Homo sapiens: one gene and its partners. The protein of the gene in region 2 purifies or fractionates together with the protein of the main gene of each other region. This does not show direct contact. Each region holds a gene or a part of one and is shown on either strand. Other genes may lie near its edges. The genes, in order: ZYG11B, MCAT, MALSU1 and METTL17.

The links.
Region 1: the proteins of MCAT (region 2) and ZYG11B purify together in Homo sapiens (affinity purification with mass spectrometry; 2 studies listed by BioGRID and IntAct, with this or other methods). This does not show direct contact.
Region 3: the proteins of MCAT (region 2) and MALSU1 purify together in Homo sapiens (affinity purification with mass spectrometry; 2 studies listed by BioGRID and IntAct, with this or other methods). This does not show direct contact.
Region 4: the proteins of MCAT (region 2) and METTL17 purify together in Homo sapiens (affinity purification with mass spectrometry; 2 studies listed by BioGRID and IntAct, with this or other methods). This does not show direct contact.

Annotation. Positions count from the first base shown.
Region 1 is NC_000001.11:52,764,004-52,771,715, reverse strand, and holds part of ZYG11B (protein zyg-11 homolog B), read right to left. Parts: intron 697-7,712; coding exon 1-696. UniProt on the Homo sapiens protein: Serves as substrate adapter subunit in the E3 ubiquitin ligase complex ZYG11B-CUL2-Elongin BC. Acts to target substrates bearing N-terminal degrons for proteasomal degradation with the first four residues of substrates being the key recognition elements.
Region 2 is NC_000022.11:43,133,301-43,141,012, reverse strand, and holds part of MCAT (malonyl-CoA-acyl carrier protein transacylase, mitochondrial isoform a precursor), read left to right. Parts: intron 1-3,714; coding exon 3,715-3,932; intron 3,933-7,526; coding exon 7,527-7,712. UniProt on the Homo sapiens protein: Catalyzes the transfer of a malonyl moiety from malonyl-CoA to the free thiol group of the phosphopantetheine arm of the mitochondrial ACP protein (NDUFAB1). This suggests the existence of the biosynthesis of fatty acids in mitochondria.
Region 3 is NC_000007.14:23,301,669-23,309,380, reverse strand, and holds part of MALSU1 (mitochondrial assembly of ribosomal large subunit protein 1), read right to left. Parts: intron 1,514-7,712; coding exon 1,432-1,513; intron 26-1,431; coding exon 1-25. UniProt on the Homo sapiens protein: Required for normal mitochondrial ribosome function and mitochondrial translation. May play a role in ribosome biogenesis by preventing premature association of the 28S and 39S ribosomal subunits.
Region 4 is NC_000014.9:20,986,007-20,993,581, reverse strand, and holds the start of METTL17 (ribosome assembly protein METTL17, mitochondrial isoform 2 precursor), read right to left. Parts: upstream 3,603-7,575; 5' UTR 3,580-3,602; coding exon 3,505-3,579; intron 3,353-3,504; coding exon 3,199-3,352; intron 3,119-3,198; coding exon 2,984-3,118; intron 1,459-2,983; coding exon 1,377-1,458; intron 1,042-1,376; coding exon 960-1,041; intron 465-959; coding exon 391-464; intron 1-390. UniProt on the Homo sapiens protein: Mitochondrial ribosome (mitoribosome) assembly factor. Binds at the interface of the head and body domains of the mitochondrial small ribosomal subunit (mt-SSU), occluding the mRNA channel and preventing compaction of the head domain towards the body.

The DNA of each region.
Region 1 (7,712 bases), on a different chromosome or scaffold from region 2:
CTACAAATTGCATGCTTGGACGTTGTTGTATAAAGGCTTCAACGGCTTTATCTGTCACGTGCTTTCTCCCAGAAACATCCAGAGAAACAAGGTTAGGTAGGATGTCTTTTTGTTCTAGTAAGCGAAGAGCTATGTCTGATGTAAACTGTTTATCATCTGAGATATCAAGATGATTCAGATGTTTGAGTTCCCGAACTACATCCAGTATCTGGGTAGTTGTCATTTTTAAACATTTCAAGTGGTGCATGGTTAGAGACTTGAGTCGGTCTTTGCAGGCCAGTAGAGCAGTGATGTCTGTGATTGAGGTGTTAGAAATATCCAAGCTCTCTAATCTTGGCAATGAGGCAACTTCAGCCAGGTCTTCATTGTAAAAGAGAACATTCGTGATGCTTAAAGCTCGAAGGCCAGAAAGCCGGCTGAAGCAGCGCTCGTAAGGATCCTCGAGGGAGAGAGTTAATGAATTCAGCACCAGGCACTGGAGATTCTGCTGGATCCATTTGTTACTGCCAAGCCCACTGATAATGTCTGTAATCGTGATATCAGCATTCACACCTGTGGCATCAAGTTCCACTAACTTGTGGTGGCAGAAAGCTTTCCGGAAAGCAACAGCAGAGATCTTTGCTTTGCGAATGCAGGCTCGCTTTAAGCGCATCTGGTTGCCCCTAAAAATACCCACAGTTCCATCATTCAATAGACCTGTGGAAAAACAAGCAGCGTTTTAAATTCAAAAAACAGTTAAAGAATAGCCAAAATTTCCATCACACTTTACATTTCCAAAGCGCTCCCATGTAACAGTATCTCGTCTGATAATCACAATTCATTTAGGTGAGATTATTATTGTTTACAACTTGTAGATGAGTAAACTGGGGCTCAGAGAGTGGCTTTCCAAGATCACAGGGCTAGCAAGTGGCAGAATCAGGACTGTGGCAGACATTATTGATATCCACTAACATCTAGTTCTTACCTTACCAGACAACTACATTTCCCAGCCCATCCCTGGAGTTAGCTGGAGCCATGTGCCTAGTTCTGGCCAATGCACTATATGTTGAAGCACCTGAGAGCCAGTGCATGATTTTCCATGCTGTCTTTTCCTGCTATGACAAACGAGGAGACTTCACGTTCTAGAGAGTATAGTTATATGAGGAGAAACCCTCCATCAGTTTGGACCCTAGGGTGACCATGAAGCAGAATCCTCTATGGACTTGCAGAGTTTATGTACCACAAGTGAGGTATAAACCTTGTGTTAAGGTATTTGATTTGTTACCAATACATTTCTAGCCTATCCTTTAAATTCACCTTAACATATTATTATACAAACACATATACACATAATATATTTAGCATGCACTTAATGCCTTGTAATTCATTAATAAACCACTAGCCAGATCTCAAACCTTATTAAAGCGATCTAGGCCTGGGAAACATAGCAAGACCCCATCTCTGCAAAATAACTGAAAACGAGTTGGGCACAGTGGTCATGCCTATAGTCCTAGCTACTAGGGAGGCTGAGATGGAAGGATCATTTGAGCCCAGGAGTTTGTGGTTATAGTGAATTATGATTGCACCATTGCACACCAGCCTGGGTGACAGAGTGAGAACCTGTCTCTGAAAAAAAAAAAAAAATATATATATATATATATATAGTAGTTACAGCTTCCCCCCACACTCCCCCTCCTGCAGATGAATGTAAATGAAGTCGACACAGTAACCTCTTGAAGTGCCTTCGAGATCTACCTGTCTACCAATCAACAGTGTCACAAGCATATGATACTCTGGAGGCACATCAACATATCACATATCAACTAAACAACATTGACTGTGAAAGAAGTAACAATCATGCCAAAAACAGGTAGTCTAAGAATAGTATGGGGTGAATGAGCAGTTGAGGACAGGTAAATAAATAGCCTGAAGTCATGAGAGGAACTCTAAGGCGGCATCTTAGCTGGCCCATACTCAAAATGCAGCTAGGCTGCCAGCCAGTCACCCTTAAATTAGAAATGAGGTGTTTTTAAAAGGGAGCACTATTCTCTAATGAGTTTTGCAGACTTAATTACAGTTACACAGTTAAAATCAAGAAAGGCCTGTGCAAAACCTGCCAAAGTGGACAAAAATGACTAATTACATATTAAGAACTCCATTACATTTTAGAGCTGTGCTGCCCAATACATAGTCACTAGCTCCACACAGCTGGAGAGCACTTGGAAAGCAGGTGGTACAAAGTGAGGTCAGCTATAAAGTACAAAATATACACCAGATTGTGAAGACTTAATACAACAAAATAATGTAAAGTATCTCAATTTTTTATATATACTACAGGTTGAAATGATCATTTTTTAATATATTGGGTTAAATAAAAATTATTAAAACTCGTTGCACTTGTTTTTCTTTTTATTTTTTTATGTGGCCACCGGTAAATTTAAAATTACATTTCGATTAAACAATGTAGTTCTAGAGACAGCCTTTCAAATTACCTGCACTCTATTTCAGGAGAGTAAATTTCATGATGGGGTCCATTCAGCAAACAGTTTATTAAACAATTACTATATGTCAAGTACTCTAAATGTTGTAGATACAAAGAAAAATAAGATATGCCCCTATAGTCAAAGGATTCATAATCCCATGGAGTAAAAAAGACACAAACAGCCATAACAAAATGAGATATATGGTATATCAATGTCAAGTATAAAGTATCACAAAAACAAAGAAAAGGAAGTAAACCATCATGAATGAAGATCTGGAAAAGATTTGATGGGAGAGGTGATCTTTGAGTAAGGCCTTTGAAAATGCTGGAAGAATTCAAAGATAGAGAAAGGAGGTTAGTAGGCCAGGTGCAGTGGCTCATGCCTATAATGCCAGCATTTTGGGAGGCCGAGGCGGATGGATCACCTGAGGCCAGGAATTCGAGACCAGCCTGGCCAACGTGGCAAAACCGCGTTTCTACTAAAAATGCAAAAATTAAATGGGTGTGGTGGTGCGCGCCTGTAATACCAGCTACTTGGGAGGTTGAGGCAGAGAATCACTCGAACTTGGGAGGCGGAGGCTGCAGTGAGCCGAGATGGCGCCACTGCACTCCAGCCTGGGCGTCAGAGCAAGACTCCATTTCAAAAAAAAAAAAAAAAGAGGAAGAAGGTTAGGTATATTAAAGCAAGAATATACAACATAAGCAAAGTCTTAAAGATGTGAAAGCATATCACGGGGTTAGGAAATGGCAAGTAGTTCTTTCTATATTGCTTGAACATAAGAAATAGCTAGAGCCATAGATGCAGTGCATTTCTGGGGATATAAGCATGCAAATGGGACAGAAGAAATGAGGCTGAAGGTGAGCTGGAGCTAGATCACTCTGAAAGGTGAAGAGATGAAAGCAGATCAGCTAGGGGGGACCTTGGGACCCATGGAACAACGCAGAAAAGTTCCTGGTTTTTTTCTGGTCATATATCCCAGATCTAAAGTTGAAGGAGCCAGCAGCCTGGAAACACCAATGGGCACAGACAAAAACCTCCCCCAAAATCTGCTCTCTCTAGCCAACGTACCAGGAAAGCAGCAACTAGTAAGACAGGAAACAGCTAGTAGACAGTAACTGCTCTACTTCAGCCAAACACGACAGAAAAAACTGCAGCTCCACCCATGCCAGCAAATGCCAATAGGGGCCTAGATTTCTACCCCTGCCAGGCTGTAATTACTTGCCCCAATCTGCCCACAGGGGAGGTGTTAGAGAAGTCTGAGTAGAGAGCAAGGACTTTCATTCCTGCTGGGTAGTAAGAACTATCCCCCACCACGATGTTAGTAGATACCTTCTGGGGAGCCTGAACTTCAACACTCATCAAGCAGCGATGAAGTTCTCTACCTGCTTCCCTGCTGGGGTGCTGTCATAGGAAGTCTAGTGGAAAGTCAGGACTTTCACAACTGCCCAACAGTAATGAGGCCACCTCCTCCCAACATGGTGTCAGTAGAAGCCAACTGGGAAGCAGAAATGACATACCCATACCCCTCTCATTTAGGGAAGTATCAATAGAATCCTAGTGGGGAGTCAGAATTCCAACCTCTGCATAGCCCTGCACCTTGGGTGTCAAGAGAAGCCAAGTGGGGAACCAGAAAGAACATTAACCCTAATCTGGCTGGGCATAGTGGCTCACACCTGTAATCCCAGCACTTTGGGAGGCCGAGGCGGATGGATCACAAGGTCAGGAGATCGAGACCATCTTGGCCAACATGGTGAAACCCCGTCTCTACTAAAACACAAAAAATTAGCCAGGCCTGATGGTGCCTGCCTGTAATCTCAGCTACTTGGGAGGCTGAAGCAGGGGAATCGCTTGATCCCAGGCGACGGAGGTTGCAGTGAGTTGAGATCGCACCATTGCACTCCGGCTTGGGCAACAAGAGCGAAACTCCACCTCAAATATAACATAACATAAAATAAAATAACAACATAACATAAAATAAAATAACAAAATAAAATAACATAAAATAACAACATAAAATAAAATAACAAAATAAAATAACATAAAATAACAAAATAAAATAAAATAACATAACGTAACAAAATAACATAACATAAAATAAAATAACAAAACAACATAAAATAACAAAATAAAATAAAATAACAACATAAAACATAACAAAATAATATAACATAAAATAACATAAAAAATAAAAATAACATAAAATAAAATAACATAAAATAAATAAAATAAAATAATTTTTTTTTTTTTGAGACGGAGTCTCGCTTTTCACCCAGGCTGGAGTGCAGTGGCGCGATCTGGGCTCACTGCAAGCTCTACCTCCCGGGTTCACACCATTCTCCCGCCTCAGCCTCTGGAGTAGCTGGGACTACAGGCACACGCTGCCATGCCCAGCTAATTTTTTGTATTTTTAGTAGAGACGGGGTTTCACCGTGTTAGCCAGGATGGTCTTGATCTCCTGACCTCGTGATCCGCCCGCCTCGGCCTCCCAAAGTGCTGGGATTACAGGCGTGAGCCACTGTGCCTGGCCTATAAAAATTTTTACAAAGAACATTAACCCCAATCTGGCAGTAACAAGGCAGTGCTCCTACCTTCCACTGCTGGAGTGACGTCAGTGACTCAAACTAAAACAGAAAAGTCTCATATCACCTAAAATGTCCTGGTTTCAATAAAAAATTACTCTGAATCATACTAAGAACCAGTAAGACTTCAAACTCAAAAAGAGATAATCAATATATGCCAACAGTAAGGTAACAGAAATGTTAAAATTATTTGACAACGATTTTAAAGGAGCCATAAAAAAATGCAATTAAATTTTCAAAAGTAAACAAATATGCTTGAAAAAAAATGAGTAACAGACCAGGCGCGGTGGCACTTTGGGAGGCCAAGGCAGGCAGATCATGAGGTCAGGAGTTCGCGACCAGCCTGACCAACATGACGAAACCCCATCTCTACTAAAAATACAAAAATTAGCTGGGCATGGTGGCACACGCCTGTAGTCCCAGCTACCCAGGAGGTTGAGACAGAAGAATCACTTGAACCTGGGAGACAGGGGTTGCAGTGAGCCAAGATCGCACCACTGCACTCCAGCCTGGGCGACACAGCAAGATTCTCCATCTCAAAAAAAAAAAAAAAATTTAAAAAAAATTTAATAAGGAAAAAAAGAAAAAAATGAAAACAGACTCAGCAAGGCAAGAGAAGATATAAAGAAGAATCAAATAAAAATTTTAGAAGTGAAAAATATAATAATGCTTGAGGTCAACAGTAAAATAGAGAACAGAGAAAAAAGACTGGTGAACTAGAAGATAAAACAACATAAATTACCTAATTTAAATAACAAGAACAGAATGGGAAAAAAACCAAAACCAAAAACCTAAAGCTATATTTGTGTCACTGGAATATCTCAAGGACAGGAGAAAGACAGTGTGGCTGAAAAAGTACTTAAAGAAATAATGAGCAGGCACAGTGGCTCATGCTTATAATCCCAGTACTTTGGGAGGATGAGACAAGAGGATTACCCGAGGCCAGGAGTTTGAGACCAGCCTGGGCAACATTGCAAGACTCCATCCCAACAACAAAAAATTTTAATTAGTCGGGCATGGTGGTACATACCTGTAGTCCTAGCTAGCTAGTCGGGAGGCTGAGGTCGAAGGGTCGCTTGAGCCCAGGAGTTTGAGATTATAGTAAGCTATGATTGCACTCTAGCTTGGGTGACAGAGTAAGACCCTGACTGGGAAAAAACAAAAAACAAAAAACAAAAAACTGAGTGTGGTGGCTCATTCCTGTAATTGGGAGGCTGAGGTGGGAGGACTGCTTTGAGCCCAGGGGTTCAAGACCAGCCTGCACAACATAGAAAGACATCATCTCCATTACAAATTTTTAAAAATTAGTCAGATGTTGGTGGCATGCACCTGTGATCTCAGCTACTTAGGAGGCTGAGGCAGGAGGACTGCTTGAGTCCAGGAGTTCAAGGCTGCAGTGAGCTATGATCATGCCACTACACTCCAGCCTGGGAAACAGAATCAGACCTTGTCTCAAAAAATAATTTTTTTTAATTAAAAAAAAAGATAGGCTGGATGTGGTGGCTCACGCCTATAATCCTAGCACTTTGGGAGGCCAAGGCAGGAGGACTCCTTGAGGCCAGGGGTTCAAGACCAACCTGGCCAACATAGTGCGACTCCATCTCTATTAAAAAAAAAAAAAAGATCACTCAGAAAAATTGGAAGCAGTGGTTTACATGGAGTTAAGGGAATTTTATCTGATGGCTTCAATTTTCTTCCTAAGATAAATGGTAGAAAGTCTGAGAAGAGCAAAGAACATCTGAAACTACTGTTAGGAACACTAGTTTACTGGGGAAATACTCCAGAACTCCTGGGCAGTGCCGAGGAGCCCGCCTTTATGTTACTGACTTCCCTCCTTGTCATTCAGGTCTCAGTCTAGTATCACCACTTTAGAAGCTTTCTCTGATCATCCAAGTTAAAACATCTCCCTTCCTTTATTATTCTTCTTAAGAGAACAGTGTTCTTTTTCCCTCAGAGAACCTGGCACAAGCTGTAATTCTATATGTTTACTTCCTAATTGTGTCTCCCACTGGACTATACGCTCCATGAAAGCAAGATTCATGTTGCATTCATTGTCTTATTTAAATATTCACAGTAATCCCTGTGAGGGAGTTATAATTATCAACACTTTACAGATGAGGAATCTTAGACTTGCAGAGTAACTTATCCAGGGTCAAAGAGCAAATTAATGTTGGAACCAGGACTCAGACCTAGGACCGATTTATAGAACTCATGCTCTTTTCTTATTTTAAAAAAATCTTGGCTGGGTGTGGTAAATTACACCTATAATCCCAGCACTTTGGGAGGCCAAGGCAGGTGGATCACCTGAGGTCAGGAGTTTGAGACCAGCCTGGTCAACATGGCGAAACCCTATCTCTACTAAAAATACAAAAAAAAAAAAAAAATTAGCCAGGCATGGTGGTGCATGCCTGTGATCCCAGCTACTCAGGGGGCTGAGGCAGGAGAATCACTTGAACCTGGGAGGCGGAGGTTGCAGTGAGCCGAGATAGTGCCATTGCACTCCAGTCTGGCAACAGAGCAAGACTCCATCTCAAAAATAAAATAAAATAAAATAAAATAAAGAATCAACATGCTCTAAATGATAACTCAAGGGCTTCTTTCAAGGAGTAAAATACAGATGCATAAATACAAGGATTGTGCCCCAAAGCATTTTTTCTTTCTTTCTGATTTA
Region 2 (7,712 bases):
GCTGTGATTCCTTTTCAAGACTGAAGGATTCATTAGGGATTTCCCTTATTTTTGTAATCTCATGAAATCTGCTTGCTGAACTGTCTAACCCGCTATCCTGTGCACTCATACCTGCAGCACCTGCAACACGAGAGTATGTGTTCAGTAGATATTCGTTGAATTAAAGAGTAAATAAATATTGGATCTGGAGCCATATCAGTTTTACTTCTTAAGATTTTTGCTGGCCAGGAACCATGGCTTACGTCTGTAATCCCAGTGCTTTGGGAGGCCAAGGCAGGAGGACCACTTGAGGCCAGGAGTTCCAGACCATCTTGGGCCACATAGTGAGACCTTCATCTCTGCCCCCAACAAAAAACAAAAATTACGTTGGGTGCAGTGATTCACACCTGTAATGCCAGCACTTTGGGAGGCAGAGGCAGATAGATGTTTGAGCCCAGGAGTTTTAGACCACCCTGGGCAACATGGTGAAAACCCCATCTCTACCGAAAATACAAAAATTAGCCAGGCATGTTGGTGTGCGCCTGTAGTCCCAGCTCGAGTACTTGGGAGGATGAGGTGGGAGGATTACCTGAACCCAGGAGGTCAAAGCTGCAGTGAGCTGTGATCGTGCCACTGCATTCCAGCCTGGGTGACAGAGTGACACCCTGTCACACACACACACATACACAAAATTAGCTGCACTTAGTGGCATGCATCTGTAATTCCAGCTACTCAGGAGGCTGAGGGAAGATCACTTGAGCCCCTGAGTCTGAGGCTGCAGTGAGCCACGATTGTGCCACTGCACTGCGGCATGGGTGACAGAGCAAGACCCTGTCCAAAACAAACAAAAAAGAATCTAGTATAGAAACACGAGAGGTTATTGGGACTGGAGAGGGAGAAATGGAGAGTGCCTACATAGTGGACATGGAGTGTTTGAAACTAGAGAGAGTTGGTGGTTGTACAACATTATGAATACCCCAAATACCACTGAATTATACACATTAAAGTGGTTAATTATATTTTATGTGAATTTCACTGCAGTGCTTTTTTTTTAAGCGTTATAACATTATTAAGGAAAGTTTCATAATTTCACATTTTATGAAACAATTTTATTACATGTATCATTTTATGTGTACATAATGTGCAGAATTAGGCTTGGTGTGGTGGCTCACGCCTGTAATCCCAGCCCAGCACTTTGGGAGGCCAAGGTGGGTGGATCACCTAAGGCAGGAGTTTGAGACCAGCCTGACCAACGTGGTAAAACCCCATCTCTACTAAAAATTCAAAAATTATCTGGGTGTGGTGGCGTGCACCTGTAATCTTAGCTACTTGGGAGGCTGAGGCACAAGAATCACTTGAACCAGGAGGCAGAGGTTGCAGTGAGCCGAGATTGTGCCACTGCACTCCAGCTTGGGTTAGAGAATGAGACTCTGTGTCAAAAAAAAAAAAAAAAGTGCAGAATTATAGCATAGTTACACTTTTGTGTTTTCTTTTTCTTTTTCTTTTTTGAGGCAGTATCTTGCTCTGTCACCCCAGCTGCAGTGCAGTGGTGCAGTCGTAGCTCACTGCAGCCTCAGCCTCTTGGCCTCAAGTGATCCTCCCGCTTCAGTCTCCAGACTAACTGGGACTACAGGCTCACACCATCATGCCCAGCTAATTTTAGAAGTTTTTGTAGAGATGGGGTCTCGCTATGTTGCCAGGGCTGGTCTGGAACTCCTGACTCAAGTGATCCTCCAGCTTCAGCCTCCTACAGTGCTGGGATTACTTACAGGCATTAGCCACTGTGCCTGGCCTACTTTTTTCCCTTGACATTTTACATAGTTTTGAATGTCTCTGTGGGAGGATGTCTGCGTGCTCTCCTCCCTTTTCTTGTATGTTTTCTTCTACTTCTTGTCACAGGCTCTTGTTCATTTGTTTTTTAAGAGACAGAGTTTTCCTCTGTCTTCCAGCCTTGAGTGCAGTGATGCAACCATAGCTCACTGCAGCCTCTAACTCCTGATCTCAAGCAGTCCTCCTGCCTTAGCCTCCTAAGTACCTGATGTCACAGGCTGTTTATGTATTTGTCCTCCTGTTCTTGTGTAAGGGAGCTAAAAGTCCAGTACATAGAAGTGCTAAGTGAATGAAGATATGTCAGGATTTGCTCCTTAGACCTCTCTGTTGACCTGTGAAACACTGTGCAGGTCCCTTAATCTCTTCTCAGTCTGGTCATCTCTTCTCTCTGCCCAGGAAGCAGGACCAGGGTGTCAGGGGTCTGGTAGTTTCAGGCCATTCTTATGTGTGGCTTTGTAGGGATTTTTGAGACAGGGTCTCGCTCTGTCACCCAGGCTGGAATACAGTGGCATGAACACAGCTCACTGTAGCCTCAACTTCCTGGGCTCCAGCAATCCTCCCACCTCAGCCTCCCAAGTAGCTGGGACCACAGGCGCACACTGCCACGCCCGGCTAATTTTTGTATTTTTGGTAGTGACAGGGTTTTACCATGTTGTCTAGTCTGGTCTCGAACTCCTGAGCTCAAGTGATCTGCCTGCCTTGGCCTCCCAAAGTGCCGGAACTACAGGTGCGAGCCACAGCGACCAGCCCTCAGGCCACTCTTATTATCATTGGCACTGCCTGCCCTCTCTCCATGCTCTTGAGCCACACTGAATCAGGAGTCATAGGTTTTCGTTCATCTGCATTGGCTGTGTCAGGTTCTCCAGCTCTAAGTGGGGACAGTAACACTTGACTTATGACAATTATGTCACTGAAATTCATGTAGTACAGTAGCCCATGTCTCTGATGGTTCTTTTTTGTTGTTCTTGTTTTGAGACAGGGTCTTGCTCTGTCACCAGGCTGGTGTGCAGTGGAGCAATCATAGCTTACTACAGCTGCAGCCTCAACCTGCTGGTCACAAGTGATCCTTCCGTGTCAGCCTCCCAAGCATCTGGGACTACAGGCAGGCACCACCATGCCTGGCTAATTTGTATTTTATTTTTTGCAGGGACAGGGTCTCCCTATGTTGCTCAGGCTGGTGTCGAGCTCCTTGGGCTCAAGCCGTCCTGCCTCAGCCTCCCAAAGTGCTGGGATTACAGGCATAAGCCACCATGCCCGGCCTGATCTCTCTTAATAAACTAACTAATAATAATTCCCAGCTTTCACAACAGCCCAGGCAGATTAGATATTATTATCCTCATTTTACTAACTAAAAATTTGAACCTCAAGGAGGTTGTGACTTGGCTAAGGCAATGTGGCTTCCACCCTGTTCCTCTTTACCTTTTACCAGGGTTTCTCAATAGTGGCACTATTTAAAAAAAAAAAAAAACAGTGGCGCTATTGGGCCAGGTCATTTGTTTTGTTGGGGGCAAGGGGGGCTGACCTGTGCAGTGCAGCATGTTGAGCAGCATCCCTGGACTCTACCCACTAGACGTCAGTGGCACTCTCCCCTAGTCAGAACAACCGGAAAACGTCTCCGGACACTGCCCCCGGCCTGTTGAGCACCACTGTCCTACTCCAAACCAGCTTTATAGCAGGAAGCTCCTTGGGTTAGTTTGTATAGTGCCAAGCACAGCAGCATACTTTTGGTGGTGAGCGCTTGTGCAGTCGATGGAGGTGTGTGGAACTGTGGCCCTGCTGGCTGGTGGCAGACACCAGTGCCCCTGTCTCTAGTGCAGAGTGGAGCTTGGGCTTTGTTTCTCAGGCCTGGCCTTTTCTCCTTCATTCTGTGCCCTCATTTTTCCAAATGCGCTTCTCTCTGGCCAGGTTTGTATGCAGTGAAAATCCGAGCTGAGGCCATGCAGGAAGCTTCAGAAGCTGTCCCCAGTGGGATGCTGTCTGTCCTCGGCCAGCCTCAGTCCAAGTTCAACTTCGCCTGTTTGGAAGCCCGGGAACACTGCAAGTCTTTAGGCATAGAGAACCCCGTATGTGAAGTGTCCAACTACCTCTTTCCAGATTGCAGGGTGATTTCAGGACACCAAGAGGTGGGTGTTGATGGGAACTGCCTTCATAGGCCAGTCCAGTACGGAGGGTTGGAACTGCTCCACACCCGTGAGGCCTAGCAGTCTGGCGGGTGCTGGGTCCAGCCCGGTCTTTAGGAAGTATTTTGGGGCCAGGGCAGTGAGGTAGACCGAGTGCTGCAAAGCAGGCAGGAGCAAGAATGCTGCCCTGCTCCACCACGTGTAGAATGGGGTCTGGAACCAACCAGCCAGCCCATGTCTAAAGTAAAGGGGCAGGGCCAGCTGATCTCCAGGGCCCTTCCCGTAGTACATTCTGGGCTTCTGAGGAGCCTGTGATCTGGTTGCTTCCTTAGAGAAAAGAGATTTGTTTTCTGCTAGATTGCTCTGCCTGCCCTGCTTTTTTTAGGTGTCTGTTTTTGCCCTGGAGTTCATTTCCTTTCCACCGTATTTCCTTCCATTTGCTACTTCCCCAAACATTTATCAAGGGCTGGGGACGCACAGACTGATTAGCCAGGGTTCCTGCCGTCAAAGGAAGAGCCCCGTGAATGGATGACTCCAGGCCGAGGGGTGCAGTGAGGGTCTGGCTGGCTACTCATGGGCCTAAGAGCAACCCAGGAGGCAGCAGCTGGAGGACGGGCATGTGTTTGCCAGCAGGGGGCACCCTGAGCAGAGCGGCAGGAGCCCCCTACAGAAAGAGCAGTGGGTGCTGAGTGCCTGGCTCAGGGAATGCTGAGTGAGCGCAGATTGCAGCCCGTGTGAGGGGCTGCTGCCCGGGCCAGGCATTTCTGTCTTACTTCATGTCCCTCACAGCCCATCCTGTGCTATATGGAAGGAAGGGATTCTTTTTTTGTTTGTTTGTTTGAGACAGGGTCTCACTGTGTTGCCTAGGCTGGAGTATGGTGGCACCATCACGGCTCACTGCAGCCTGGACCTCCTGGGCTCAAGTGTTCCTCCTACCTTAGCCTCCTGAGTGGCTTGGATTACAGACACGGGCAACCACACCTGGCTAACTTTTGTATTTTTTTGTAGAGACGGGGTTTCACCGTGTTGCCCAAGCTGGTCTTGAACTACTGGGCTCAAGGGATCCCCCCACCTCAGCCTCCCAAGTAGCTGGGACTACAGACACAGGCCACCACACCCAGCTAAAGGAAGGGATTCTTAATCACATTTTCCACACAAGGATGCTGAGGCAGAGAGAGGCAAGTGCTTGGGGATAGTAGAGGCAGAATGGGAACCTGAGTCTGTCTCACTCTGGAGTCTGTTTCCGCCACTTGACCGTGCTTGGCTCCCCTTCCCCTTTGAGGGCTCACCGTGTGCCAGGCGTCCTCAACTGCCTCCTCTGAAGTAGTGAGAGCTGGCAGGAGCCTCTTATGACTGTTCTGAGATGGTGGGCAGGTCAGGTATGGTGGCCCCAGGTCAGTCTTGGAGCTAGTTAGGCGTTCCCTTTACCAGCCTTGGAAGGAAGCCCAGAAGTGGCTCAGGAAGGACTTCCCAGTCAGGGCAGGAGTCTCCCCAGTAGGCTCCCAGACAGGTGCACCCAGTCTAGGTGACAACTCCTAGGTTCATCCTTTTGATTTTTTTTTTTTTTTTTTTTGTTTTTTGAGACAATGTCTTACTCTGTCATCCAGGCTGGAGTGCAGTGGCACGATCTTGGCTCACTGCAACCTCCACCTCCTGGGTTCAAGTGATTCTCCTGCCTTAGCCTCCCAAGTAGCTGGGACTACAGGTGCATGCCACCACACCCAGCTAATTTTTTGTATTTTTATTAGAGACGGGGTTTTACCATGTTGGTCAGGCTGGTCTTGAACCCCTGACCTCAGGTGATCTGCCCACCTCGGCCTCCCAAAGTGCTGGGATTATAGGTGTGAGCCACTGTGCCCAGCTTCCCTTTGGTATTCTTGGTAGTGCCACAGCAAAGAGCTCAGGTGAGGGCAGGGGTACCCCCTCAGGGGGGAAGCCCCTTTCCAACAACTGATGTGAAAAGGCTCCTGGGCCCTGCTCGCCCAATGCCTGGGCCAAGGACTGGCCATTGGAGAGGAGACTGCTGGCCCCTGTGATGGTGACCTTGAGCCCTGTGGCCCTAGCCTGGGACTTGAGAGGGCTCAGCTGTTGAGCCAGAGTCCAGAGATCTTACACGGAAAGCACTTTGAGACCACAGATGCTCCAGGAAGTGCTACTGAGTAGCCATCCCCATACCTGCCAGTCACTCAGACAATCTAGGTGTGGAGGGAGGGGCTTGGGCTCCAGAGTCTGGAAGGCCCAGACCAAAGAGGCTCCTGGTTCCTGCGGTCCAGCCTCAGTGGGATGGAGCCACATGGAGGGTGATGGTGGAGGGGAAGCACGGGTGAGTCAGTACAGGCCAGGTTTTGTTGCAGTGACAAGTAGCCCACACCTCAGTGGTCACAGCACACAAGCACCGGTCCCACTCCTGGTCTGTGCTCGCCAGGCTGGGTTCTGCTTTTCAGCCCAGGACTCAGGCAACAGGAACAGTCTCTAGGGAACACTGACAGACTAAAGCAGGTGGATGACTTGAGGCCAGGAGTTCAAGACCAGCCTGACCAACATGGTGAAACCCCATCTCTACTAAAACTTAGCCAGGCGTGGTGGTACATGCTTATAGTCCCAGCTACTCGGGAGGCTGAGGCAGGAGCATTGCTTGAACCTGCGAGGTGGAGGTTGCAGTGAGCCAAGATCGCACCTTTGCACTCCAGCCTGGGTGACAGAACAAGACTTCATCTCAAAAAATAATAAAGACCTTTGCAAGTTCTGTTGCTTGCTCACTGTTGCAAGGGTTTTGGAGCTATTGGCTCGCCCGAGGCCCCTTCTGAGCTCAAATGCCTTCAGGGGAGGTTTTTGGCATCAAGAGGAGAGCTCTTTCCTTCTCCAGAGAAACCTCAGATGAAAGTGACAATATCCTAGACCCTGCATTGTGAAATGGGGCTTGAATTTTAGTTCTGAATTTTTATTTTGAAGATTATGGAATAAAAAGCAAACAGACTGGTCAAAAATTATGAAAGGAGTGATAGAATTCTCATTGAGATCCGGGTGCGGCGGCTCATGCCTGTAATCCCAGCACTTTGGGAGGCCGAAGAGGGTGGATCACGAGGTCTGGAGATCAGCTAATACAAAAAATTAGCCGGGCGTGGTGGCGGGCGCCTGTAGTCCCAGCTACTTGGGAGGCTGAGGCAGGAGAATGGTGTGAACCTGGGAGGCGGAGCTTGCAGTGAGCCAAGATTGTGCCACTGCACTCCAGCCTGGGCCACAGAGCGAGACACCGTCTCAAAAAAAAAAAAAAAAGAATTCTCATTGAGAACTAACACTTCTTAGATAGTGCGTTTTCCTCTACCAGACACTGTTGCATGCCTTGTAGGGTTTGCTCTTCCTGGCAGCGTTGTGAAGTAGATGGAACTGTGCTTATTTGAAGGCTGGGACAGAAGAGATTCCAGGATGTTAAGTGAATTGCCTGGGGATGGTGCTGGGACAGACAGGTCACATGTCCACATCTAGCAGCTGTGGGTCTCTTTGTGGTCACCCTCCCAGTTTGGCCCTGTGAATGGTCAGATCTGTAAAGGCGGATTTCTGGGACATTGCTCGGCTGAAACCTCCTTCCTTCCCCAGGCTCTACGGTTTCTCCAGAAGAATTCCTCTAAGTTTCATTTCAGACGCACCAGGATGTTGCCGGTTAGTGGCGCATTCCACACCCGCCTCATGGAGCCAGCCGTGGAGCCCCTGACGCAAGCTTTAAAGGCAGTCGACATTAAGAAGCCTCTGGTTTCTGTCTACTCCAACGTCCACGCGCATAGA
Region 3 (7,712 bases), on a different chromosome or scaffold from region 2:
AGCATCAAATGAATCACCATGCTGCCTGTCAGGGACAGATAAGAGATACAATGAAGGAATAGTTCATTTGCTTTTATTCTTACCTTACAACACACACTGGCTAACTCTAGGAATAAAGCAGTGGTTCTCAAGTGTGGTTCCCAGATTAGCATCACTGTGGACTCCATCCCAGCAAAAATACCACAGAAGTGATGCTATGCCTTTCTCAGTGTACCTACAGGAGGCATATGTCAATATATAACATTGCTGGTGATAGTAACTTTATCAAAGAGACTAATGGTGTCAGGATTCTCTTCGGTGACAATTCTCCATGGGTAACACACTTCTGCACATCTTTTGTGCAAAAACACTGACTGCCTTTTGTTTTGACTATCCAAGAATGTTTGTATCGTGAATATTCTTAACAGAAAGATACTGCCTCCCTCCAGGGCAAAGGGCAGCTTTGCTTACAGCAGCATTTCTCAATTAGGTAATAATGGTAATGTTTAGAGTCATTTTTGATTGTCACAATTGGAGAAGGGAGGATACTGCTAAACATCGTACCGTGCACAAGAGACACCCCTCCCCCACATGCAAAATTACCTGGTCCAAAACGTTAATAGCGACAAAAGTGAGAAACCATCAGAGCAAAAGTAGGCCTGCTTCCTGCCAGTTATAAAAAACCTAGACACCCTCATCTGAGTTCCAGTTTTACAACTGTGTGTGCTGGTGTCATCTGGCCCATGTTGCCCTATGGAATCCAGAGCTCAGGAAACCAGTGCAAAATGGATGCTGGCTACTGCTGTGAGTAATAAACTGTTCTTTGTCTCTAACCCTCTAATAGTCTTGTCTTTTACCAGTGTCCATGAAAACTGGCGGGACAATGTATTAGCTTACAAGCAGAATAAAATCTCAGACTCCTCAGTTCTTGACATACAGTTATGTTTCCCCTTTGTAAATATTATCTTGTTGGGAGGTGCTTTGAAACTATGTACACATTAATACCCAAAGTTGTTAGATCTTTTCAAAATTCTAGTCTTCTGCTCTTGTCCTTTTTTGTGCCTGGAATAACCTCATCCTCATCTCATTTATGCACCACAGCCCCCAAACCTTCCTCTACCACTACTAAGGAATCTCTCCCGCCTCTACTATGTTATCCTGTTGTCCACCACCTTCCTGATCTGTGTGGCTAGTAGATACACACCATGTAGTATATATCTTCCTCCAGGAGGGCATCATCTAGGGTACTTTGGTTTGGTTAGGTGAAAATTCTACATGTGAATAAGACCACCTGGATTATAACTAAAAAAACTTTTGTTACCTTAAACACACTTCAAAAATCTTACCTGGAAATACATTCATCAATTTGATCTCAATCCTTTTGCAACTGAAAACAATTCAAGATTAGCGTAGTACCAACAGTTACCTGTAAAATACGCCAGAATAACTTACCAAAATCCACGCACAGCCAGTCATCAGTGTCCTTCCCTTCTATCTTAACATGAGGGTCACGTTTACATTTCAGGTGTTTGTACTGCAAAAAGCCAGGTGGTTTATTAAAGGGAGAGGGGATGGGGGAAGCCTGTTCTTGCTGAAGGTCTTTTTTTTTTGTTTGTTTGTTTGTTTTTTTTAATCTTTCTTACTCATTTCTCATTGCTATACTTTGCCCTGTGATGAATAACTTAGGGAAACTATTTCTCCCTCTAAATCTTATTCACTTTCACCTCTCTCCTGAATTCTCCTGCCCCAGCCCTTCTGAGAGGGTCACCCCATTCATTCACCAAGGTGCCTCTGAGGCTGAAAAAGCTAAGCTCAGTCAGCATTTGGTACCCACCTACATCCATCACTTGTGTTCATCCCAGCTTTCCTTCACCTTTAGGGGCTGCAGATACTACCTTCTGTTTATAAAGCCAGGTTGTTTCAGTGCCACTGATTTCATCTCATCTGCCTTTATGACATGTTAATGGGACCCCGTCATCCTATAAATGTGCTCAGTTCTTTTGTTAAAACAGATATACTAATATCAAACAAGATGGCAATTAAGTAAAAACTGTTACAAGAGACAAAGGACATCTCATATACATCACCCCAAAATCAAAGGAAATGATAATTAGGGCAGGAAAAAGACAAAATCAATGAAACTAGGATTTGGTTCTTAGAATGACTAAGAAAAAAGACAACTAAAATCTGAAATGAAAGAAGTGACACTACTGATTTTAGAGAAATGGGATTGTAAGAGTATTATGAGCAACTGTACACCAAACAACTGGGTAACCTAGACGAAATAGCAAAATTTCTAGAAACACAATCTACTGACTGAATCATGCAGAAATATAAAGTTTCAATAGACCATAACTAGTATGGGGACTGGATCAGTAATCAAAAATCTCCCAACAAAAGTCCTAGACCAGATGGCTTCCCTGATGAGTTTTACCAAATATTTAAACAAGAATGCAATACTCAAATTCTCCCCAAAAAATTGAAGAACAGGGAACACTTCCTAACTCATTCCATAAGACCAATAACCCTGATGAACATTTGATGCAAAAATCCTCAACAAAAATACTAGCAAACCAAACTCAGCACCATATTAAAAGGATTATAGACCATGACCAAGTGGGATTTATCCCTGGAATGCAAGGTGGTTCAACATATAAAAACGGATCAATGCAATAACACCACATTAACAGAATGAAGAAAAAATCTATATGATAATCTGAACTGACGCAGAAAAAGCATTTAACAAAATTCAATACCCTTTCACAATAAAGCACTCAACAAAGTGGGCATAAAAGGAAATTACCTCAACATAATAAGGGCCATGTGAGAAAAGCACACAGCTAATATATTCAATGGTGAGACTGAAAGCTTTCCTGTAAGATCAGGAACAAGACTATGCCTGCTTTTGCTACTTCTATTCAACACAGTATTGGAAGTTCTAGTCAGAGCAATTCGTCAATAAAAAAAAAAAAGGTACCCAAATTGGAAAGGAGGAAGTAAAATTATCTCTGAAGACAATACAACTTCATATGTAGAAAACCCCAAAGATTCCACAAAAAAAACCCAGTTAGGGCTACTAAACAAATTCAGCACACAAAAATCCATCGTATTTCTATACACTAACAATGAGCAACCTGGAAACAAAGTTTTTAGAATTCCATTTACAATAGCAGAATAATACTTTTTTTTTTTTAATTGAGACGTTCTTGTTTTGAGTTTCGCTCTTGTTGCCCAGGCTGGACTATAATGGCGCAATCGCGGCTCACAGCAACCTCCACCTCCCAAGTTCAAGCGATTCTCCTGCCTCAGCCTCCCAAGTAGCCGGGATTACAGGCATGCGCCACCACGCCCGGCTAATTTTGTATTTTCAGTAGAGACGGGGTTTCTCCATGTTGGTGCGGCTGGTCTTGAACTCCCGATCTCAGGTGATCTGCCTGCCTCGGCCTCCCAAAGTGCTAGGATTACAGACATCAGCCACCGTGAGCAGCCTAGCAGAATAATCTTAACCACAGGAGCAAAAGACTTGTACAATGAAGACTACAAAACACTGCTGAAAGAACTTACAGATGCCAGTAAATGGAAAGATACTTCATATTCATGGATGGGAAGACAATATTGTAAAGATGCCAATACTACCCAATGCAGTCTACAGATTCAGTGCAATCTATATCAAGATCACAATATTTTTTGAAGAAACAGAAAAATCCAACCTAAACTTTATGTGGGGCCAGACACGGTGGCTCACACCTGTAATCCCAGCCCTTTGGGAGGCCAAGGCGGGTGCATCACCTGAGGTTAGGAGTTTAAGACCAGCCTAGCCAAAATGGTGAAACCTCATCTCTACTAAAAATACAAAAAATTAGCTGGGCATGGTGGCGGGCACCTGTAACCTCAGCTACTTGGGAGGCTGAGGCAGGAGAATTGCTTGAATCTGTGAGCCGAGATTGTGCCACTGTACTACAGCCTGGGCAACAAAAGCGAAACTCCATCTCAAAAAAAAAAAAAAAATTATATGGACTCTCAAGGAACCCCAAATAGCCAAAACAATCTTGTAAAAGAACAAAGTTGGAGTCTCATATTTCTTGATTTCAAAACTTAGAACAAAGCTATGGTAAACAAAACAGTCTGAAACTGGCAAAAAGACAGACGCACAGACTGATGAAACAGAATACAGAGCCCAGAAATAAACCCTTGTGCCTATGGTCAAATGATTTTCAACAATGGAGCCAAGACCATTCAATGCACAAAGGACAGTCCTTCCAACAAACGTTGCTGAGGAAATGTCCACATGGAAAACTAACCGCCTACAAAAACTAACTCAAAATGGGTTAAATATCTAAACAGGAGACTTAAAACTATAAAACTCTTAGAAGAAAATAGGGAAAACATGATACTGGTTTGGCAATTATTTATTAGATATAATACCAAAGACACAGGCAACAGAAGAAAAAATAAACTGAACTTCACCAAAATTAAATACTTTCGTGCATCAAAGGACACTCTAAAGAGTAAAAAGGCAACCCACAGAATGGCAGAAAACATCTGCAAATCACATATTTGATAAGGGATTAATATCCAGAATATATAGAGAGCTCCTACAACTCAACAACAAAACAACAAACAACCTGATTTTAAAATGGGCAAAGAGTCTGGGCAATATAGTGAGACCCTGTCTCTATAAAAAATAAATTAGCTGGGCACTGTGGAGTAACTCCTACCATTCTACTTTCTGTCTCTATGAATTTGACTACTCCTACTCCTCTAGTCCTAGCAACTTGGGAGGCTGAGGTGAGAGGATCACTCGAGCCCAGAAGTTCCAGGCTGCAGTGAGCTATGACCACACCACTGCACTGAAGCCTGGGCAACAAAGTGAGACACTGTCTCTTTAAAACAAACAAAAAAGCAAAGGACTTTTCTTCAAAGAATATATACAAATGGCCAATAAGCAAAAGAAAATATGCTCAACATCACTAATCCTTAGGGAAATACAAATAAAAACCACAATGAGATATCACGTCATGCCCATTAGGATGGCTATTACCAAAATGAGAAAATAAGTTGTTGATGAGGATGTGAAGACTGGAAACTCTGCACTGCTAGAGAAATGTAAAGTGGTGTAGCCACTATGAAAGAATACAGGAGCTCCTCAAAAAATTAAAAACATTCAGCTTTGTGCTAGGCTGGTGAACAGAAAAAAAATTAAAAACAGAATCACTATATGATCCAGCAATCCCATTTCTTTGCACATACCCCAAAGCATTAAAAGCAAGGACATAAACAATTTTTTTTTTTTTTGAGACTGAGTTTCGCTCTTGTTGCCCAGGCTGGAGAGCAGTGGCACAATCTCGGCTCACTGCAACCTCCACCTCCCAGGTTCAAGCGATTCTCGTGCCTCAGCCTCCCAAGTAGCTGGGATTACAGGAACCCTCCACCACACCCAGCTAATTATTGTATTTTTAATAGAGACAGGGTTTCACCATTTTGGCCAGGCTGGTCTTGAACTCCTAACCTCAGGTGAACTACCCGCCTTGGCCTCCCAAAGTGCTGGGATTACAAGTGTGAACCCAGCCTTTTTTTTTTTTTTTTTTCTTTTGAGACAGCGTCTTGCTCTGTCACCCAGGGTGGAGTGCAGTAGTACAATCTTGGCTCACTGCAGCCTCAAGCTCCTGGGCTCAAGCAATCCTCCACCTCAGCATTCCAAGTAGCTGGGACTACAGGCACACACCACCAAGCCCAGCCAATTTTTTATTTTATTTTTTGTCTTTTTTGTAGAGATGGAGTTTCACCATGTTGCCCAGGCTGGTTTCAAACTTCTGAGCTCAAGCAATCCGCCCACCTTGGCCTCTCAAAATGCTGGGATTACAGGCATGAGCCACTGCGCCCAGCCTCATGAACAGTATTTCTATACTCATATTTATACCAGCATTATTCACAATAGCCAAAAGGTGGAAGCAATCTAAGTGTCCATCAATGAATAAGGGGATAAACAAAATGTGGTATATACGTAAGATAGAGTATTATTCAGCCTTAAGAAAGAAGGAAATTCTGGCACATGCTACTACATGGATGAACCTTGAAGACATTATGCTAAGTCAGATAAGTCGGTCACAAATCTATGATTCTACTTTTATGAGATACTGAAAAGTAGTCAAATTCATAGAGACAGGCAGTAGAATGGTAGCTGCCTACGGAAGGAGAAATGGGGAGTTATTGTTTAATGAGTTCAGAGTTTCGTTTTTGCAAAATGAAAAAATTTCTGGAGACGGATGGTGGTAATGATTGTAAGTCAATGTGAAGGTACTTAAAGCTACTGAACAACACAGTTTAAAATTGTTAAATGGGCTGGGCACAGTGGCTCATGCCTGTAATCCCAGCACTTTGGGAGGCCGAGGTGGTCAGGAGTTTGAGACCAGCCTGACCAACATGGTGAAACCCCATCTCTACTAAAAATAGAAAAATCAGCCAAGCGTGGTGGTGGGTGCCTATAATCCCACCTACTCAGGAGGCTTAGGCCGGAGAATCACTTGAACTCGGGAGGCGGAGACTGCAGTGAGCTGAGATCGAGCCACTGCACTCCAGCCTGGGCGACAGAGCGAGACTCTTGTCTCCAAAAAAAAGATTAAACGGTAGGTTTTACGTTATATATATTTTACCACAAACAACAAAACTTTCTTGCCTTTGCATTTCTCTCATCTAAAATCTTTGTAAAGGCAATTTCTATTTCTTTATTCTTTCACAGAAACTTCTCTGTAAAACCTCCCATTCTTTTTACATCCGCAAGTCCAATGGTCACTAAGTCTTCTGACTCCATCCCACTATTACATCTGATAGAGACCCTGGTATGCTGTCTTTGTATATCTCTTCTTTATGCTTTCCTAGTTCTCTCCCTATCTCTCCAATTACCCTGTTTTTGGCATCTTCTTCTGCTCTGTCATGTACCAGGGTTTTGTGTATAGGCCCCACCTTTTTATTTTACAACCTTTCTCTATACAATTTTGGCTACTCTTTTGGTCTTAACTGCCTCCTCTATGACCAATTCTCAACAGACTAAGACTAAGAAAGGTATCATGGCCCCGTGGAATGGTACCAGAGTCAGCTAGAGGCTTCCAAGTACTTTCTTCCTCATTCTGATTCATATTCAGTGCAACTGGAAAACAATCCCCCTTTCTTTCCTCAACTAGACCTGTAAGGGCAAGGACTACATCTTTTTTGTTCTTACCTTCCCAATACCCCGTACAGTGCTTGGGAACACTGGACATGCTCAAATCTTTGAATGAAACTCCAGGCCAGCACTGTCCAATAGAACGTTTTACAATGATGAAAATGCTTTATGGCTGTCCCATATGGTAGCCATTAGCCACACGTGGCTATTGAGCATTTGAAATATAGCTAATATAACTGCAGAACTGAATTTATATCTTTTTTTTTTTTTTTGAGACAGAGTCTGGCTCTGTCACCAGGCTGGAGTGCAGTGGCACAATCTCAGCTCACTGCAACCTCCGCCTCCCAGGTTCAAGCCATTCTCCTGCCTCAGCCTCCCGAGTAGCTGGAATTACAGGCACACGCCACCATGCCCAGCTAATTTTTGTATTTTTAGTAAAGACGGCATTTCACCATGTTGGCCAGGATGGTCTTGATCTTTTGACCTTGTGATCCACCCACCTTGGCCTTCCAAAGTGCTGGGATTACAGGCTTGAGCCACCACGCCCGGCTGAATTTATATTTTAATTTAT
Region 4 (7,575 bases), on a different chromosome or scaffold from region 2:
AATCACTTGAACCCAGGAGTGGAGGCTGCAGTGAGCCGAGATTGTGCCACTGCACTCCAGCCTGGGCGACAGAGTGAGACACCGTTTCAAAAAAGAAAAAAAAAAGGTAGACTCAAAATACTATTTGTAGGCAAAAACAACTTTGATTGATAATTCCTTTTCTTTTTAATTTTTCTACACATGCGCCTTTTTTTACTTGACATTTCTTTTAAGTTCTGGCCCCAATCCATATACCTTCTTCTGCCTTGCCTAATCTGATGGAAGAAACATTATAGATTCCCAACTTGCCTATTCTCCCTCTGGTTTTCCAGTCTGTTAATTTTGGAGTGGTGTAAGTATGGCTTTCTAGAGCTAAAATTGACCAAGATAGGGCTGAAGAAAGTTACTCACCAGGTGACAGAACCAGTACCTGAGCCAAAGTCCATCAAAGTTTGTGGCTGAAATGCTGGATTTCGAGCCCGGATCTGAAGAAATATACAACATCCCACAGTAGGGTAATTAGATACTTATTTAGGACCTTGATAAATGTGAATTAGGAGGCTATCACAGAGGATGTGAGATGTGAATGCCTTTTGAGATTCAATACAAATACCTTATGGGATAAGAATCTCCTAAAATAGTGATTCTAAACCTTTCTTGGGTCACAGAAAGCTTTCACAGGATAAAGAGAACGTCTTTATTTTGTGTTTTTTTTAAGAGATGAGGTCTCACTCTGTCACCAGGCTGGAGTACAGTGGAGATCACAGCTCACTGCAGCCTCAAACTGGCTCAAGCAATCCTCCTGCCTCAGCCTCCCAAACAGTTGGGACTGCAGGCAGGAGCCCACTATGTCCAGCGGAGATCCTCTTTAAAAAAAAAATGCATATGCAATGTCCCAAGAATCCCCATCCTAGAAAACTACTTTATGAATAGGGAACTGATGGTCAAAAAGTTCAGGTTGGAAGTTAAGGGACTTTCACCTCATGGAATGCTCTGGAGACTGCTGCAAAGCCACCATCCAGTCTTGCTGCCATATACACCAGGCTCAGTCCCTCAGTGTAGCTGCCATTAAAATCACAGAGTTGTACATACTAGTAAATAACCTTAATCCCATAATTACCTTCTAGATTTAGAAAATGACATCTTGGAAAGGGCTCTTCCAGCTCAGGCCTTTCACTCCCCAATACAAAAGGGTCCTGGGGAGACTTACAAACACTAAATTTTCAAACTTCAGTGTTCAAAACTTTGTACTTTAGCTTTTTCAAATACTAAATTGATCCTTTTAAGGTCAGGTGATATAAAAGAAAATACTAAATTGATTGTGTAATTGTACTCCCCCAACTCTCTTTCTAAAGTCTACCTTTGCTTTCTTGTGCACCTCTTCTGGGCCCCCTTACCTCAGTTCTTGCCAATGGTAGGTAGTTTTACGTAGTGCGTGTAGCACTGCTCCACGAAGTTTCTCCTCTGTCTGAGATAAGTCTGTGGTGAGAACAAGGACTGGAAGTCAGGACCTAGGGAGAACAGGGCTCAGATCCAATATCTGAATATACTGCCCACCCAGTCCTCCCCGACTCCACCTAAGAAAAGCCTTAAAGCTCAAGGGAGACGACAAACCTAGAGAAAAGTTTCAGGCAAGAATTAACGGTAACAACTACCACTAACAGATTGTATCAGATAGCATTTTATTTATAAGAATGGTTTATTCAGCTTAACCAATCCTGTCCCACAGGTTTGTTTTATATTAAAGGAAAGTGTGATACAAATTTAAAGGGTAAGCTGGGTGCGGTGGCTCACGCCTGTAAGCTCAGCACTTTGGGAGGCTGAGGCAGGCGGATCACGAGGTCAGGAGTTTGAGAACAGCCTGACCAACATGGTGAAAACCTTTCTCTACGAAAAATACAAAAATTAGCCAGGCGTGGTGGCGTGCACCTGTATTCCCAGCTACTTGGGAAGCTGAGGCAGGAGAATCACTTGAAACCGGGAGGCAGAGGTTGTGGTGAGCTGAGATCGCACCACTGCACTATAGCCTGGGCAACAGAGCAAGACTCTGTCTCAAAAAAAAAAAATTTTTTTTAAAGGGTAGGCCAAGGACATTATTTTTTGGATTTCTTCACTTCTCCAAAATTTAAGGTTTTGATGATCTCCACTATTCCTATGGAGAGGAAAGAAATCTGAAAATCTACGTCTCATGACTGTTCAGTTCAGTACTATTTAGCAAGTATCTACTGAACTACTGTGAGCCAGGTACTGTGAGGTGTGCAGGGAATGCAAGATGAATAAATGGTAGTGTCAAGGAGCTCACAATCATGAAACTAACTTGATGAATTATATTTACCCTCTTATCCCAGAAGAGGGTTTCAGTACTGGGCAGGGACCATCCAGGGACTTTATTTTACCTGAATAAAAACTTAGAAGGTCCTAATCCAGTGGACTTGCAGAAAAAAATAAATATCTAGATTTTAACAGTATATTGGTAGCCAGGCGCGGTGGTTCATGCCTGTAATCCTAGCACTTTGGGAGGCCAAGGTGGGCGGATCACCTGAGGTCAGAAGTTCGAGACTAGCCTGGCCACCATGATGAAACCCCGTCTCTACTAAAAATACAAGTAGCCGGGTGTGGTGGTGCACGCCTGTAATCCCAGCTACTGAAGAGGCTGAGGCAGGAAAATCACTTAAACCCGGGAGGCGGAGGTTGCAGTGAGCCGAGATCGAGCATTACACTTCAGCCTGGGTGACAGAGCAAGACTCTGTCTCAAAGCAAAAACAAAACAACAAAACAAACAAACAAACAAAAAACAGTATACTGGGACATTCTGACCTTTACCTAAGCAATCTCTAAAATAATCTACCTTCTTTTAGTAAGGCATCATTGTAACAACTGCTGCTCTGGTTAGAAAGTCAAATAAGAGACTTCAGTATCTGAGAGATTGTAGAATTATTTCTTACTCTTCATTTCTAACCGATATTTCAATCTCGCCCACTTTTTAATTATTCTTAAGTCCTACCTGGGTTTTCCAGGAATTTTTTCTCAAGATGCCTAGCCCGTCTTTGCAACTCCTCTGGCTCTACAGGCAAATGTCTGCTCCAGAGATAACTGGTCAGTGTTTGCACCTGATTCTCCATAGTGGGCCCAGCGCTCCCTATGGGCCAAAGACGAAAAGCGGAATCACTTGCATGTAGGTCCAGTCCCGTTTCTTCTCGCTTTCCCGCCGTTACTCACCAAGTAGCAATAACTGGGCACCGTTAGCCAGTGCCTGTGGCAGCCGCACGTGCGGCAGCTTTAGGATGCCAGGGTGCTGGCGATGAGGCCTCTTCTGCAGGAAACCGGACTTGTTATCTACCTGGGTCACTCCGGGTACTAAGGCGGCGAGCGCCTGCAGGCAGAGAAAGGTAGGTTGATTTCCTGGCAGAAAGGAAAGTTGCTGGCAATCGCTAGGGCGGGGGCTGCCAGGAGCGCTCCTCCTCTGCGCGGAGATGTCTCTGCAGATCCAGAGTCTCTCCGACAGCAGGGAATGTAGGCACTCACCCGGGCCTGGGGAGCCACTCCAAGGCCGGGGCACCATCTTCCTAATGTCAGTAGACACTTCAGTGCCGCCGCCATGGCTCCGGAGGCGAACCGGAAACGGAAATACAGGTGCCTGTGACCCTCAGTCCCAACGCCGCAAGGAGCAGCCTTCGCAGAACTTCTCCCGACAGTTTCAGCCAACGAGAAGAGCGAGTGTTTGCCAGCAGCCAATAAGCAATGGTTATATAAATAATCCTTGAGGCAGAAACCGTGTTTGGGCCGACTTGAAGGCTGCGTTGGGCCTGGTCACCGGCCCCAGAAATCAAGAGGGTGGGGTGGGGCGGGGCGGGACGGGACGGGGGCGGGATGGGGTTGGGTGTGAGCGCGCCAGCAAAGACTGTTTCTGGGAGTACTGACTTCCTGTGTTCTTTGCATTCCTCCGCGGAGAACTCTGAGTCTTGGGTTGTTTCCCTGTGTGAAAAAGGGAGACTGCAGTAACGGAAAGAAGAGAAAAATCAGATTTAAGCGACTGAAGAAAACAGAAATTAATAGTTAAATGATTATTGAATAGTTAATAGTTTGATAAATATTAAACCTAGTTAATAGGTTTATTTATTTTTTTACATTTGTTAATTTCTCTTCAAATGAGACCAGTCTTCTTAGTAAGCTAACATAACACTTACTGAGAACACCTATGTGCTAGGTACTTCAGGGAAAAGGACTGATCCCCACTTCACAGAAAACATGGTTCTGACGGGGACCCTCCTGTGTCTGCTGCTACGTCAGAGTGTTTCCCCCAGGCCCAGGACTTAGACAGTAGCCGTCTGATTACCTGAGGTGCAGAATCTCAGGTGGGTCCAGCCACTATTGTGACGTGATAATATAGCATAGGGGAATGGTCTCCAGAGTCTGCAAGCTCATCAACACCTTCATTCACTAGAGCATCAGAAGGATAAATGGCATATGCAAGGCGATATCTACTTTCGGGACCTGACAGTGGACAACTGCTACCTCAGTCTCCGAACACTTGAGCTCACCCAGTGTGTGATTTCTGTGGGCTCCTGGCCCCCTAATTTCCGTTACAGGTTTAGGATGTTCTCCCAGCACATCCACTTGACCTGTGTGTGGAACCAGCCAGTTCATCTGGAGGGCTAGACTCCTGAGTCATCAGGCTAGGGCCTGATGATCTCAGGCCCCAGCGCCCTAATTGGACTTTCCTTCTGTGGTTCTCTACCTTATTCGACTTCTTCCCCAAATCTGCAGACCTCACCGACTGCAGCCTGCCAGCTCTCTCAGGGCTCCTCATCTCGGGGTGAGGTGGGGTGAGGAGACATGGGTGGACAGGGGGAGAAGGGCCGCTCTGCCTCTTCCAGGCGGAACCGCCCTTCCTGTAGATGAATGCATGGCCCACTGACACATCCTAGGCTGACACTTGCCTCTTTTCCAGCTTTTCCTCAGTCCTCCTTTTACCTGGGAATCTTTCCTGGGTGCTCAAAAGGGTCACCACAGTGACCTCTACCCCTCCAGTGAGAATGCTCACGTTCAGAGTCGTGATTCTGTGTGTGCCCTGGGCTGAGGACTCTGCCCTAGAGATATCTGAGGAATGGAACCATTAAATTAAATTGATACCTGTTGATATCTCTCCAGACTATTAAGTCCACAACCCAGGCCGTCTCAAAGGTTCTTACTCCTGAAGCCATCCCTCATTTTTTGTGCGAGTCTTGCCCAAATGCCAGGGTGCTGGCGATGGGGCCTATTCTTGCCCAAATGCACAGATAATTCTGAAGATTGGGCCATACTAGATGTGTGTGTTGGAAGATCTGCCAAGATTCTACTGTCAGCTAGTCAGAGCTCTTGAGTAAATCCCTCAGCATCTTGTCCTTATAATTCTATTCATATAGCTGAGATCATGTCACGGCTCCAAAAGCCACCATCCAAATTATGGGCATTTTCTGTCCATAAAACTTTGTGAAATGATTCCTTGTAGGAAATTTATCCAAGGGAATCACCAGATCTCAAGTACCTTCATAGTAGTTCAACTCCAACGCATAAGCCACCGCGCCTATGTAGGGGCTCCACACAATGTTTGCACTCCACACAATGTTTGCGCTCCAGGATAAGAGAAGGAGAGAAGGGAGAAAGGGATGCAACTTTCACCTCAATGGGAGTGAATGAATGGCCTCTTCAAACATGACCTGTCTGGGATTCTGAGTCATTCTAGTTCCCCTGCAACAGTAGGAGCCATCTTGACTTTATCTCTGAATCTCAGTGTCTGTCTTATTCTGTGCTTGGGTTTTAGTAGGTTACCAGTGTTTGCAGAAGTGACCCTGCCTGATTTGCGGTGGACTGTGAAGCTAAGTGTCTACTCTTTTCCCTCCGTAGGCCACTGGGAGGACAGATGATGCTCAAGTTTCCCTTTTTCCTCTTGGTCTTATGTCACTTACTGCTTTCTTTTCTTTTTTTTCTAGCCTATTGTTTTCTTTTTAAGACAGGTGACATTCTGTCACCCAGGTTGGAGTGCAGTGGTGAGAACATGGCTCACTGCAGCCACACATCCTAGGTTCAAGCGATTCTCCTACGTCAGCCTCCTGAATAGCTGGGACGACAGGTGTATGCTACTGTGCCTGGCTAATTTTTTATTTTTTTCGAGAGATGGGGTCTTTCCACGTTGCCCAGGCTGGTCTTGACCTCCTGAGCTCAAGCGATCCTCTGGCCTTGGCCTCCCAAAGTGTTGGGATTACAGGCGTAAGCCACCGCGCCTGCCTTATTCTATTGTTTCCTTTCTCTCCCACCCTCCCACTTCTTTTCTTCCTCCCTTCTTTTATTCCTTTTTTTTCACAGCACAAGATATCTTCTAATGTAAATATTTGATTCTTTATGATAAATTAAAAAAAGACTGGGGTGCAAATCAGAATCAATCACATTTTTTTCTTACTCCTTGGGGGCTCATTTGACTCTTGAGTGGGAAAGAGGCAGATCCCAGGTGAAGCCTCAGTCTCTTGGCCTAAGGCAGGGAGAAGCATGAGTCAGATCAACATGATGATTCATCTGAGTCTCAACCATGAAGAAATTCACGGATTGTACAGGGTTTTCTGGTGCAGTCAGCTTTCTTGTGTTGTGACTTGGCTGATTAACTCATATTCAAGGCCAGAACTACTGTTGCTGTTGAGACTAATCCAATTACAAAGTATTCTGCTGCGGGGGAGGGATCTTCCAATTGGATCTGATCTCCTTTGGCAAAAATCTATGTTGAGGAAAGCAAGGAGGTTCTGGAGGGATTATAGATTTTGAAAACTCTGGCTCGGGCAGACCCAGCATGGCTTCCTACAGATATAGGATGGGGGATCACCACAGAGCAGTGTTAGTCTTGGCATGGGATGGCATGAAAGGATCGCTGATATCCTCAGAAGATGAATGGTGGTCACACAGGAGCTTCTTTGGAGGTGCATTGTGGACTCTTAACACATGGATAAAGTCTTAGAGGAAAATCCAAGGATTGGACACCCATTGGGGGTCTCGTATATCTCTCCTGAGGGACTGAGACCCTGAAATAGGGACCGGAATGGCCAGGGCAGTGAGAGAATGTAGAAGTCTTTCTATTCTCAGTTCATGTTTCTCAAGAAAATCTAAAAGTTATCCCATTAAAATGTTCTGGGTTGGGGGCCTCCATTGTTTAACAACTAGGTCAATGGTTTCCAGTTCAGACTCGGGAGAGGAATCCCAAGAAGGAAACTCTGGCTTATCATCTACTTCTCCAAGCCTTCTAGAAATACCATTTCTAATGTACTGTCCTGCAACAGGGACCAATTCAAGACAGAACTTTCCAGAAGGATCTGTTTGTGTTTTTGAGAACTACTGGGAATGGCCAGCACAGCCACCTGGCCTAGGAGACTTGCTATTATACAGAAAATGAAGAAAAAATGTGAGAAGAAAGGGATGAAGAAAGAGAAGATAAAGAGGAAAGAAAGATATATAATGGGGAAAGACATTTATCCATGATAGGGAGTTTATTTTTCGTTCTTGAGTTGGTGGAATTCTTTACTGACCATGTTAGATGTGCCACACTCTGTGTTAAGGGCTAAAGCTAGGAGA